Linked DNA regions of Homo sapiens: region 1 is linked to region 2. The links come from fine-mapping of genetic effects on gene expression. A gene starts in region 2. The other region holds a variant in brackets. All regions are shown on one strand. Distances are between the middles of the regions. Region 1 overlaps MTURN (maturin, neural progenitor differentiation regulator homolog). Region 2 holds the start of MTURN (maturin, neural progenitor differentiation regulator homolog).

The links.
Region 1: its variant is fine-mapped to the expression of MTURN in whole blood (TOPMed, PIP above 0.99).

What each region holds. Positions count from the first base shown.
Region 1 is chr7:30,159,753-30,165,123 of GRCh38, forward strand. It overlaps MTURN (maturin, neural progenitor differentiation regulator homolog), which reads left to right. Exons shown (of 3, transcript NM_152793.3): 3 at 1-3,010. Among named protein-coding and RNA genes, the nearest start is that of MTURN, 27 kb to the left of the region's middle. RefSeq lists silencers at 40-99, 3,697-3,756. The variant C/T (reference allele first, on the strand shown) is at 2,045.
Region 2 is chr7:30,132,083-30,137,453 of GRCh38, forward strand. It overlaps MTURN (maturin, neural progenitor differentiation regulator homolog), which reads left to right and starts at 2,904. Exons shown (of 3, transcript NM_152793.3): 1 at 2,904-3,216. The coding sequence starts at 3,055. It overlaps LOC105375216 (a long non-coding RNA gene), which reads right to left and starts at 2,632. Exons shown (of 3, transcript XR_927146.3): 1 at 2,522-2,632; 2 at 1,235-1,373. RefSeq lists silencers at 2,802-3,051, 2,822-3,199, 3,392-3,531, 3,852-4,031.

The DNA.
Region 1 (5,371 bases), 28 kb after region 2:
TAAGACTTCCTTTTTCTGAATGTGTGCACATCCCTTCTCGTGCTCACACACTTGCCCACACACTCACTTCTTCCTGCGCTGTGGCTGCTCTAAGCAGGGCTGTGCATGGTGCAAAGCTGCAGTCAGTGAGCCTGGCAGCCTGTGGTTTCTGTTATGGAAATGGTTCCATGGTGAAACACATCCCTGACCCTTCACAGACTTACACATTTACTCACCAGGAGGTGGCAGCGGTGTGGGAGGAGGAGTGTTGACCTTGGACGCAGGAGAGACACCTGGGTTCTAGTTCAAGTCGGCCAAGGACTGTGTGACCTTGACAAGTCTAACTGGTCTGTGAACAAGGGGCATTTGCCCTTCCAGCTGTAAACACTGCCCTTCTGTGCCTGCCTTATGTGTGTGTGTGAGTAAGGAGCAACAGTCAAGGAAACTTTTAGGGATTCGAGAAGAAAATACATGTGGGATCTTGCCAAGGTGCTGCCTTTAGGATGCTGACCCCTGCACTACCTTAGAACATGTTGATCTGTGAGTGCCCAAGCCCCTGAGGGCTCGATCTCATGGGGCAGATGAAATTCTCTTCCTTAGAGGAAAGGGAAAGGTGAGGCCCCAGAGGACTTATCTCAGCTGTACATGCTCTGCCTGTGGAGACATGGCTTTTCTTTGTGCTGTGGCAGACTGGGGCTTTGGAAGTGGTGTATGTTTAACTTACCTGAGAGTGAGAGATGTGTAGGAAGAATAGCTGGAAGAAAGTGAAAGATGAGTGCCAGTACTTTTGGCCTGTTATCCAGTAGAGAGAAAGTGACAGTGAAAGTAACGTGAGAGAGAAAGAGTGTGTGTGTATATGTGAGAGAGAGAAAGAAAGAGAAAGGAATGCTTGATTGCTTGTTGTTCACTGGGCCAGCTCTGAAATCCAAAATCATGCCTTGATAACATTACAAAACCGTGATCCTGGGTTTGAGTGAATCCTAGAGACATTGTTCTTATGGCCGCCTGGTTTCCGCAGCCTGATCACCATATCGAGCAGACGTCAAGGAATCAGAGTGAAGTACGGAGCCAGGGAGGGAGGTGAGGCCCCGTGTAGTGCCTGTCACCACTGTGGATTCACCTGCACTCAGGTGTCCACTCCTGTCTCCCAGGCCCAAAGCAGCACATGGTGCAATGGAAAAGTCTCTTATGTAGGGATCCTCCTTGTGTCCTGGTGCCAGAATTAGATTTCCAGTGTACTTCAACGAAAACCTCTCTCCTTTATAGTTGCTGTCATCTTTCATGTATAAACAGAAACCGTCTCTAGCACAATATATTTCTGAATATTGTTTCTGTTTCATAAGAGCACAATGTACATGGACCTAGGGGAGCTGTGGTCCCAAGTGTCATTGGAATTTATATTTTAGGAATAGGCTTTGCATGTTAAAATTCACAAGTTGGGAAACTGGTATGAACAGATCTGATTTCTTACAGAGAGGCATGAAGGAATAGGCAGGACTTAACTTGGGGTGGGAGGAGATGAATAAGGGAGAATGGGAGAGTTGGGGTCTGACAGTTACCACCTGAGCCCCAGGAAAACTGTTTTCATTTTCACGGCTGTCTCACTGGGGGCCTGCTTTCCTCAAAGGAACTGACTGTATGTTGAGAGGCAATGCCTTGTGTTGGCATGGCTTTGCCACTTTAAAAGTGCCCCCCAGCCAAGGAGACCAACAGGAACCCTGCTCATCTGGTAGGGCTCTTTCCTTCAGTAAAACCAGCTGCCAGCCTGAGAAGCCTGTCTTTCCCAAATGCAGGCAGATCTGAGAGGGGCTCCAGGCACCCGGCAGGTAAATCACAAAGCAAACTTGGGTGTCCTTGGCAGCGGGGAGGAAGCAGGAGTGCCCCCTCAGGCCAGAGGGCAGGGCCAACCTCCTCACTGTGCTTCAAGGTTGTAGAAAGAGCACAATTAATGCTTAAGCGATCACAGACCCCTCTCCCCTGCAGTGGGTGTTAGCTCCAAAGAGATGCCATTGCTGATCACCCAGTCTTCGGAGAAGCCTAAAATTTCTTTGAATTAAAAACTGAT[C/T]CTTTTTCATAAAGACCCAGTCACTTCTCCCAGTTTAGTGATAACAGGTATGACACAAGAAGCTGAAGTCTTTTAGATTTTATAGAGAGTAATTCTGAAACCTGCCAGAATGCTGGTAGCCTGTGGTGTCCATGGCAATGGGTGTCCATGGTAAAATATCTATAGCTTCTGCTCACTGGGCAAATATAAAAGACAACATATTATTTAACATAATATGTTGTCTTTTATATTTTTATTTAAATCTGGATTACGAAAATATAGTACCCATGAGCATTTCATGTTAGAAACCCCATTTAAAGCACTATAAGGCTGAATAGGCACAAGCGATTAAAAGTAGATGCCAGGCCACATAAAAATAAATGTTTTAATTTACTTAGAGCTGTATTCAAGTTGTTTGATACCAGACAGAAAGCTGACAGTCTGTTCTTTGTAAACTGCCTTTCCCTGTTTTTCTGTTTTGTTTTGTTTCTCAAGTTTCATTTTTTACTAAGCCCCTTCTGACACCTAGGCAGATAAAGATAAGAGTAGTGCGCAGTACAAATGTCAGCTCTGAAGAGGAGGAAGTAAATCTTCAATGCTAGGGCAGATCTTCACTATCCGTGATCCAGTCTTAATTTGAGCATGAGAGCAAAATTTAGTCATCTACACAAGAAGCAAAAGCAAGGAATAGTTGTTGGGTTTTTGTTTTTTGGTTGTTGTTTTTTTTTTTTTTTAGGCAAGAAGTGTTGCCGGTAGGGTATGTGTGCTTTCTTTGCCTTCCTATTTCCTTTCAAAGAAATCTCTTGTAAATTACAAAACTGTGAATTGGGTTGCCAAAAACTGTTGCCCTTCGTTAGATGCTTCAAACAGTGTAAATCCTATACTGCACCCTGTCCACCTCTGCTCCCTCCTCCCTCCCCTGAGAGTGAGGACCTCATCCGACCATGTAATTACCATTCGCTTGCTATTAAAGAGCCTTTCAAACTCTGGTGGTGTTTGCCTCTTTTTTTCTGCCTCCACAATGTTTGGTCCCAAAGGACACCTAATGTGGCTTATAAATGAAGAGCAAAGAGTAAAGGACCGGCAGCTCGCTGTGTGGTTGCTGTTTGTGAGGAGGCTGGGGGAAGAGAGGGAGGAGCTGGTAACATGAAACACTGCCATTGTTCAAAGATTAATCATTTCTGTGTGATGCATTCATATGTCTATTGTGATGCTATAACTGGTAGTTAGTAATTTTCTACTTCTTTGAACCAATACTTTAGTTTTGTGTTTGAGAACCCTATTTTTTCTAGCCTACTTAGGAATTCTTTTTGGCATTAATTAGAAATCTGTATTCTGTGGTCATTCTATGACATGACACCATGTCTCCACCACCTTCCTCCCGGTTATTTATTCACCAAACATGGCATTTAAATAACTCATCTGGAAGTTGATGGTAAGTTCTGTTATTTGATTAAGAGCCAGTTTCTTTCTCCAAATGAATGGGTCTCCATAGAGAGACCCATTAGATTCGATTAGATTTGAGTTTTGCTTTACAGGCACAGCATAAAGGCTTGTGTGTATGTTAGATAGTGTGTGGTCCTTTGTTTTCGATGTGGCTGTTAGAGATTGTACTCAAGTGGTGAGCTCTGTGTCAGCAGTCCCAACCCTGCTCGTGGTGCAGCAGCGGGGGCAGGCGAAGTCTTACTTATGGACTTCCTTTGTTACAGTTATTGTATCCGTCTCACAGATAGAGTTTATAAAATGCAGGTTGGCCCCTTTAAGTGCGGGCACTGGTGTTAAAAATACCCACATTTCCCCCGTGTAATCATTCTGAAATCAGTGGCTGAGGGCAAGAGGTTCTAGCCCAGACTCCTCCTGGGCTGACTGTGGCCCTAGGCATGTCCCCTCCCCACCCCACCGACTTCCGGCTTTGTTTCCTCATCTGTAAAAATAAAGAGTGGGAGACTTGTCCCCGAGTTCCCTTTGGGCACTAGCCCTGACTTGTCTAGGGGAGTCAGGAGTCGGTAGAGAGGACATGAAGCACAGTTGTAATGGAAACACTCACAGAACCAGGGTGGGGCGGCCAGGATTGGCAAAACTGTCCTGGGATTCTGAAGCTCTTTCCCCTAGGATCCCTTTTAGAATTGAAGACGCCAGTTGATATCGTGGCTGTGTGTTAGCCCAAATGCTTATGTCCCTGCGTGTTTTCTCCTGCCTTTCCACACCTTCCTTCCCTTCGTGAAAGTAATAAGGAGTCAGAACTACAACAAAGTAAAATTGGGGTGTTCAGCTTAGGGATGTAATCAACAGTCTCACTCCCTTTAGAAATGAGCCTCGTTTCCATAGTGAAGTTGGGCCGAGTGGGATCCTCCATTGTCATAGAGTTCTTTGTGTACAGGTTTGGGTTGAAGGACAACAAAATAAACAGAACCAGACCCACCACCCAGCATTTGGACGCCACGCCGGGGCTGGACAAAGTGGACTTGCTGTCCGTGTACCTGAGTGTCAGGGTGGTTTTGCCCTGTGCCCTGCCAAATCAGAGTGAATGAACATTCCTGTCTCTGTTTAGCAGACTTGGCCCTTTGGAAACTCAAGAAATGCATCCTGAAAAAGCTGGCACTGTGCTTTCCTCTTAGGACCACAATAGGCAAAAAAAAAAAAAACAAAAAACTGAAGTACTTTCCCTATCTCTAACCCTCCTTTTTTCCTTTTTGGAGTAAACAATGGCATTTGTAATGATCTGGGCAAGTTTTAATTAGGCAGTCAAGGAACAAGGTAGGCATTTTTTTAGGGATCATTTAAAGTAACATATTTTATCCTTATTTTGTTGGGAAATAGGGCAACAATGTACAGTGTAAAAACCAGCAGTAAAATTAAGTTGGCCCTTTCGGATGCTTTTTAATTAGAAGCCTCTAGAGGTCAGCACCACATAAAGAAAGGGCTTTTGAGTTCAGGGTGATCATGATGCCCATCTCCTTGTGGAGCTTTTGGAAAGGAGGGTTGGTGAATGTCCAGGCTGGGGAAAGAGAAGTGAAGAGCCGCCTTCTTTATACATAAACCCTAACATTTGACTGGGTTGTTTTTTTCCCTGCTCACCCATCTTTGCAGCTCCCACACCCCTGCGTCACACACTGTCAGTTCGATAAACATGACTTATTGACCGGTCGATGAAGTGTGCCATTTAGCTCATGCTGAGAAGGGCTGGGGAAATGCCGAAGATGAGATGGAAGGCACATTGCATTTTGCTTGGAGCAAGGTGGGAGGATGCTGGGTGTTCCAAGGCCTTTCAAAATATTTGTTAGCCCGTAGCCTGTTAAACTCTGCAACTTCCAGTGGAACATCAGGGAACACAGGTTTCTACCTAGA
Region 2 (5,371 bases):
GCAAAGGTTTATGATCTTCTTAGCTAAGCAACTGGTGGCTTTACCAGTTGTTCTAAGGAAACAAAATTTCAAGCAACTTCTGCAGATGAACTTTCCAGGATGAATTTCAGCTGCTTTATGTGCATACCCTTTCCACTAGTTAGTAAAAATGACCAAAACACGACTGTTGCAAGACTTTTCTCTCTAAATCTGTGGTTCTCAAGTAGGGGTAATTTTGCACTCAGGGGACATTTGGCAATGTCTGGAGAAATTTTTGCTTGTCACAGTGGAGAGAGGGGAGGGTAGAGGGAGATGCTACAGGCATCCAGTGGGTGGAGGCCAGGGAATGTGGCTAAAAATCCTGCAATGTGCAGGACAGCCTCCAACAACAAAGAATTTTTGGCTTCAAATATCAATAGTGCTGCTGCTGAGAAACCCTGCTCTAAAGACTTGGAAAAAAAAATGAGATTTAGGTTCATCTGTGACCAATATTACCAGTCATATCACTCCTGAATTTCACTTTAAAAATTCATTAGCTGATCTTCTTACACATCATCCCTAAGAAGTAGATTAAGAGTAATAATGGCATTTACTGAGTTCTTACTATGTGCTAGGTTCTGGGATAAGGACTTTATATACTTTATCTCACTGTTGTCCCTGTTTTCAGAAAAGAAAACTGAGCTCCGAGCAATGAAGGAAGTTGCAGATGCACATAAAACTTAAAATGGCAGAGGGAGGAATCAATGCAGACATGGAGTTCTGAAGCTTTTGCTGTTGCTCTCAGTGCATTTCTAAGGAAACCCAACGGTATCCATTTCATTGACCAATTGCTTTGTACCCAAAATTTTATTTTTCATAAGAGTTTTTCATTTTCTGACAAAAACTATTTGTTAAATAAACATAACTTCATAATTCTGATCACATCACTTGGAGCAAATTTGACTGATACATTTTAAAACACATGGATTAAAAAAAAAACTCCTTCTTTCCCGAAAAAGGAAAAAAGGAATGTATTTTTCATATTTTCATCTCCAATTTAAGGAATTCATTTTTGGAACACATATTATGCTTTAAATGGTGGTGCCAGGTAAAACTGCAAGGAAGCTTGTGCTATCTGGAGACACCCATACTTTTTTTTTTTAAGGACCATTTTGTAACTTTACAACAGCATATTGCATTTTTATATTCATGTGCCTGTCTCCTTCATTGTCCTGTGTATTAGTTTTCTACTGCTGCATGAAGAATTTAAACAGACCTAACAGCTTAAAACAACACCCATTTAATAGCCCACAGTTCTGAAAGTCGGAAGTCCCAGCACAGCCATGGCATCACTGGGTTCTCGCTCAGGTTCTGCGAAGGCTGCAATCATGGTAATAGTCAGGCTCAGTTCTTGTCTGGAAAAGACAACAAGTTTGAGAAAAAAATCTGCTTTTCAAGCTCATTCGGGTTGTTGGCAGAATTCAGTTCCTTGCAACATTGGCCTAGGCAAATAATTTATGACTAAAACCCCAAAGGAAGTGCAACAAAAACAAGAATAGACAAATGGGCCTTAATTAAACTAAAAAGCTTCTGCACAGTAAAAGAAACAATCAACAGAGTAAATAGACAACCTACAGAATGAGAGAAAATATTTGCAAACTACGCATCTGACAAAGGACTAATATCCAGAATCTACAAGGAACTCAAACAACTCAACAAGAAAAAAAAAAAACCCATTAAAAAGTGGGCAAAGGACATGAACAGATATTTCTCAAAAAAGACATACAAGTGGCCAACGAACATATGAAAAAATGCTCAACATCCACTAATTATCAGAGAAATGCACATTAAAACCACAATGAGATACAATCTCACACCAGTCAAAATGGCTATGATTAAAAAGTCAAAAAACAGCAGATGTTGGTGAGGGTGCAGAGAAAAGGAAACATATATACGTGTTGGTGGGAATGTAAATTCGTGCACAGTGCCTGGTTCAGAAGACACACTTTACAGAAAAAAGCTGGCTGAATGTTTATAACGTGTCTGTGTTTGTAGTGTTCAAGTCCTGAGGGCGAGGACCCTAGTGCATTTTCTGCAATCCAGTAATGCCTGTCCAGTATATGGCAGCCAGTGAGCACTCAACAGGTGCAATCGTTGGGCCACACACTCTTGTTTTAAAATGTGCTTTATCCTCTTGACCTTTTTAGGTTATGCAATGTGAATTCAAGCTGAATAATACTGAAGCCAGTCTTATGAGGCTCATTTCTAAGAAATATTCAGCTTTACGTAACGCAAATAAAAAATCACACACGCCCTTTGCAAGTGAACATTCATATTAGTGTCTGATAAATGCATTAAGAAGACACATTCCCTTAAATCAATCGGAGAACAGAACTTTGGTTTCTGCAAAAAGAAAAGCTCCCTTTTCCTTAGATTTTCTCAGCTCCTCCACTGCTAGCCCCAGACAAGGTCCAAGTTATCTGCAGTTCTATGGCCTCCCTTGCATTTAAATCGCATTTGGGCAAACGCTTCCTGGGCTTTCTAACTCCACAGAAACGCTAACCAGGTATTGGGCGCTCGCACCGCTTCCAGGTAACCCGCGGAGCTGCGGATTCCAGGCTCGCGCTGTGACGTCACCGGGCTCGCAAGCCGCGGCGCGGTCTCAGGCTCCGGTGATTGGCTGGGGCCCATGACGTCACGGCCCGGGGCGGCACCGCGATGGCCAGGGCCCCGGGATGCTCCGGGTTTGTTTAAAAATAAAGGGGGGGCGGGAGCGCCCAGGAAAATCCGGGCGCCCGCGGGGGTGCCGGCCGCTCCTCCCGCCGCCCCGCGTCCCGGCCCGGCCGCGCCAACCCCCACGGCGGCCCGCAAGGGGGCGGGGGGAGGCGGGGCGGAGGAGGAGCCGCGGGCGCGGCGCCGCGCTGTCCCCGGCCGCCGCCCGCCCCACTCCGCACCGCATGTAAACAGTCCCAGCCGGCCCAGCCCGGCCCCGGAGGAGCCCGCGCAGGCCGAGCCGAGCGCCGCGCTGCCCGCCCGGGAGGAGGGCGCCTAGGAGCGGGAGGGCGGGCGGCGGCGGGAGGCGGGCGCGGGGCCGCGATGGATTTCCAGCAGCTGGCCGACGTTGCGGAGAAATGGTGCTCCAACACGCCCTTCGAGCTCATCGCCACCGAGGAGACCGAACGCAGGATGGATTTCTACGCCGACCCCGGCGTCTCCTTCTATGTGCTGTGTCCGGACAACGGCTGCGGCGACAATTTTGTGAGTGCCTGGAGGAGGGACCGCCGGAGCCGGCGGGAGTGTGGACGCGGCGGTGCGTCCCTGCGCCCGAGCTCCCGCGCGGTGGGCGGCGGTGGGCGCAGAGTGGGGGGCCGTAACCCGCGCCCCGCGCCCCGCGTGCTCCGCCGGGGAAGCCCCGGGCCGGGCGGTGCGGGCTCCGCTGCCCGGGTGGGGCCCGGTGGGCGGCGGGCAAGGCGCCCGGAGGATCCGGGGAGCCGGGTCGGGGCGGGAGGTGTGGCGTCCCCCTAAAGGCCACTCCTCTCCCCGCTGCTGCGGGCGCCGTTTCGGGAACCCGACCTCGCGGCCCGTGCGCGGTGCCTGGCATGGAGCATCCCTGGGGTGTGGGTGTCACCCGCGTCGGACCAGCCGGGTCTGGGGCGCACGGACCCTCCGGCAGGAGCCCAGGTCCGGAGCTTCCCACATCCAGGCGTCCCGTCCGGGATAGGAATCCCGCTCCCCTCCGGTGCCCAGCCTCGGCTCCTCGCATTGCCCCTCCCGGGAGAACCCCACTCCCCGCCCTCGCGGGTTAGTCCTTGCACTGCCTGTTTGGACACAAAGCTCTGTCCATACTAGCGATGCCCGATCTCCTGGACCTTCTTTGCGGAATTACACCCCGGATCTTAATACGCACGCGCGCCTGCGCATACACCCCAACACACACACACACATGCTCACACCCTCACCCTCACACGCGCACACTCACGCGCACACGCGGCACGCCTCTCCCCCTGCCCCCGCGCTGCCCTCGCTGCCTCTCTGAGCTGCCCGAGAGGTGTGTGTGGCCCGGGCGGGTTCTCTCCAGCCGAGGCGGTGCCCTGGCCCTGCTGAAGCCCGTTGGCTTTTCCAGATGACGGGGAATCCCCTCAGCCCCGGCTCAGAGGGACCGGGAACTGGGACTGCGGTGTCCAAACCTTCCACTTTGAATCCTGCACCCACCTGGGATCCCGACTCTGGCAGTTGAGGAAGGGGATGCGGAGGGCAGGGGAGTCGGGGTGGGAGGGGTGGAGTAGGGCGAGCACGGTGCTCATGAAGTGTTTCCAAGGTCGGGGAATAAATAATGATCCCCAAATGTAAGATGGAGGCGGCCGTGGGCGCGGGTGACCGTGTGGTCGCGGGCCTTGTGGGCGGAGGTGGGGTGGTGCGGGGCGCGGCCTGGTGCACGCTCCTCAGGTGGGGGAGACAAAGCTGGGCCGTGGTCCTGCCGCCGAGCGCCCTGACCACCTACGGGAAGTTCGCGAAGGAGTTAGGGAGACTGCAAGACCGCCTTTCTTGGTCCTGGAGAGGTGAAGGCTTATGTATGCCTGGCCGATAAAGCATTCCCTCCGCCCACACGCACCCCCTGAGGAGGGCAGGGATCCACCTGGGCATTCCACAAGTGGCACTCCAGAAGAGGGATGGCCTTGTGTGACAGCCAGATTTGAGTTCTGGCTCTGTGACTGTGCTCAAATACCCACCCTGAGCTCAGTTTCCACATCCAAAAAAATAGGTATAATAATGCCAGCACCCAGGCGTTCATATAGGTAACGCACCGAATAGTCCCTAACACACAGCAAGAGCCCCACAAATTTGGGGTTAGAGACCTGGGGTTTCCCAGAATTTAGAGCTTGTCTCATTTTTTAAAGAGCCTTGGTTTTCCCACCTGTAAAATGGGGCTAATCAGAATACCTCCAGAAGAGCCAACTGAACAATAATATTAATGCCTGTAAGCCCATCTTAACTGTAGGTAAAGTAAGTAAATAAGTGTTCTTTTTGGAAGGAGTGGGAGATCATTAAAAAGGGATTCACTCCATTGCAAAAGTGTGAGAAAGCCCCCAGGATACAGTGGAAAGGGCACCAGAATCCAGCTGACTGTAAAATGTTAGGGTTTGGCTAGGGTCCCTTCCAGCTCTGGGCTTCCTTCATCTGCCAGCGCCCTTTCTCCCTCCTGACCGTGTGAAACAGGGCAAGAATGGCTCATGGTTCTGGATTTCACTGGGGAGAAGCCCACACAGCCTTCCTGCTGGGACCGCCCAGGCCATACCCAAAGAAATGACTCCAAAGACAGTAAGTGGGCCAGGAAGACAAAAGGCTGTTCTCTTGCCATGAATATGTGTATCCAACCATCGTTCAGAAGTAAGAAGTATTATATTATTTGTAT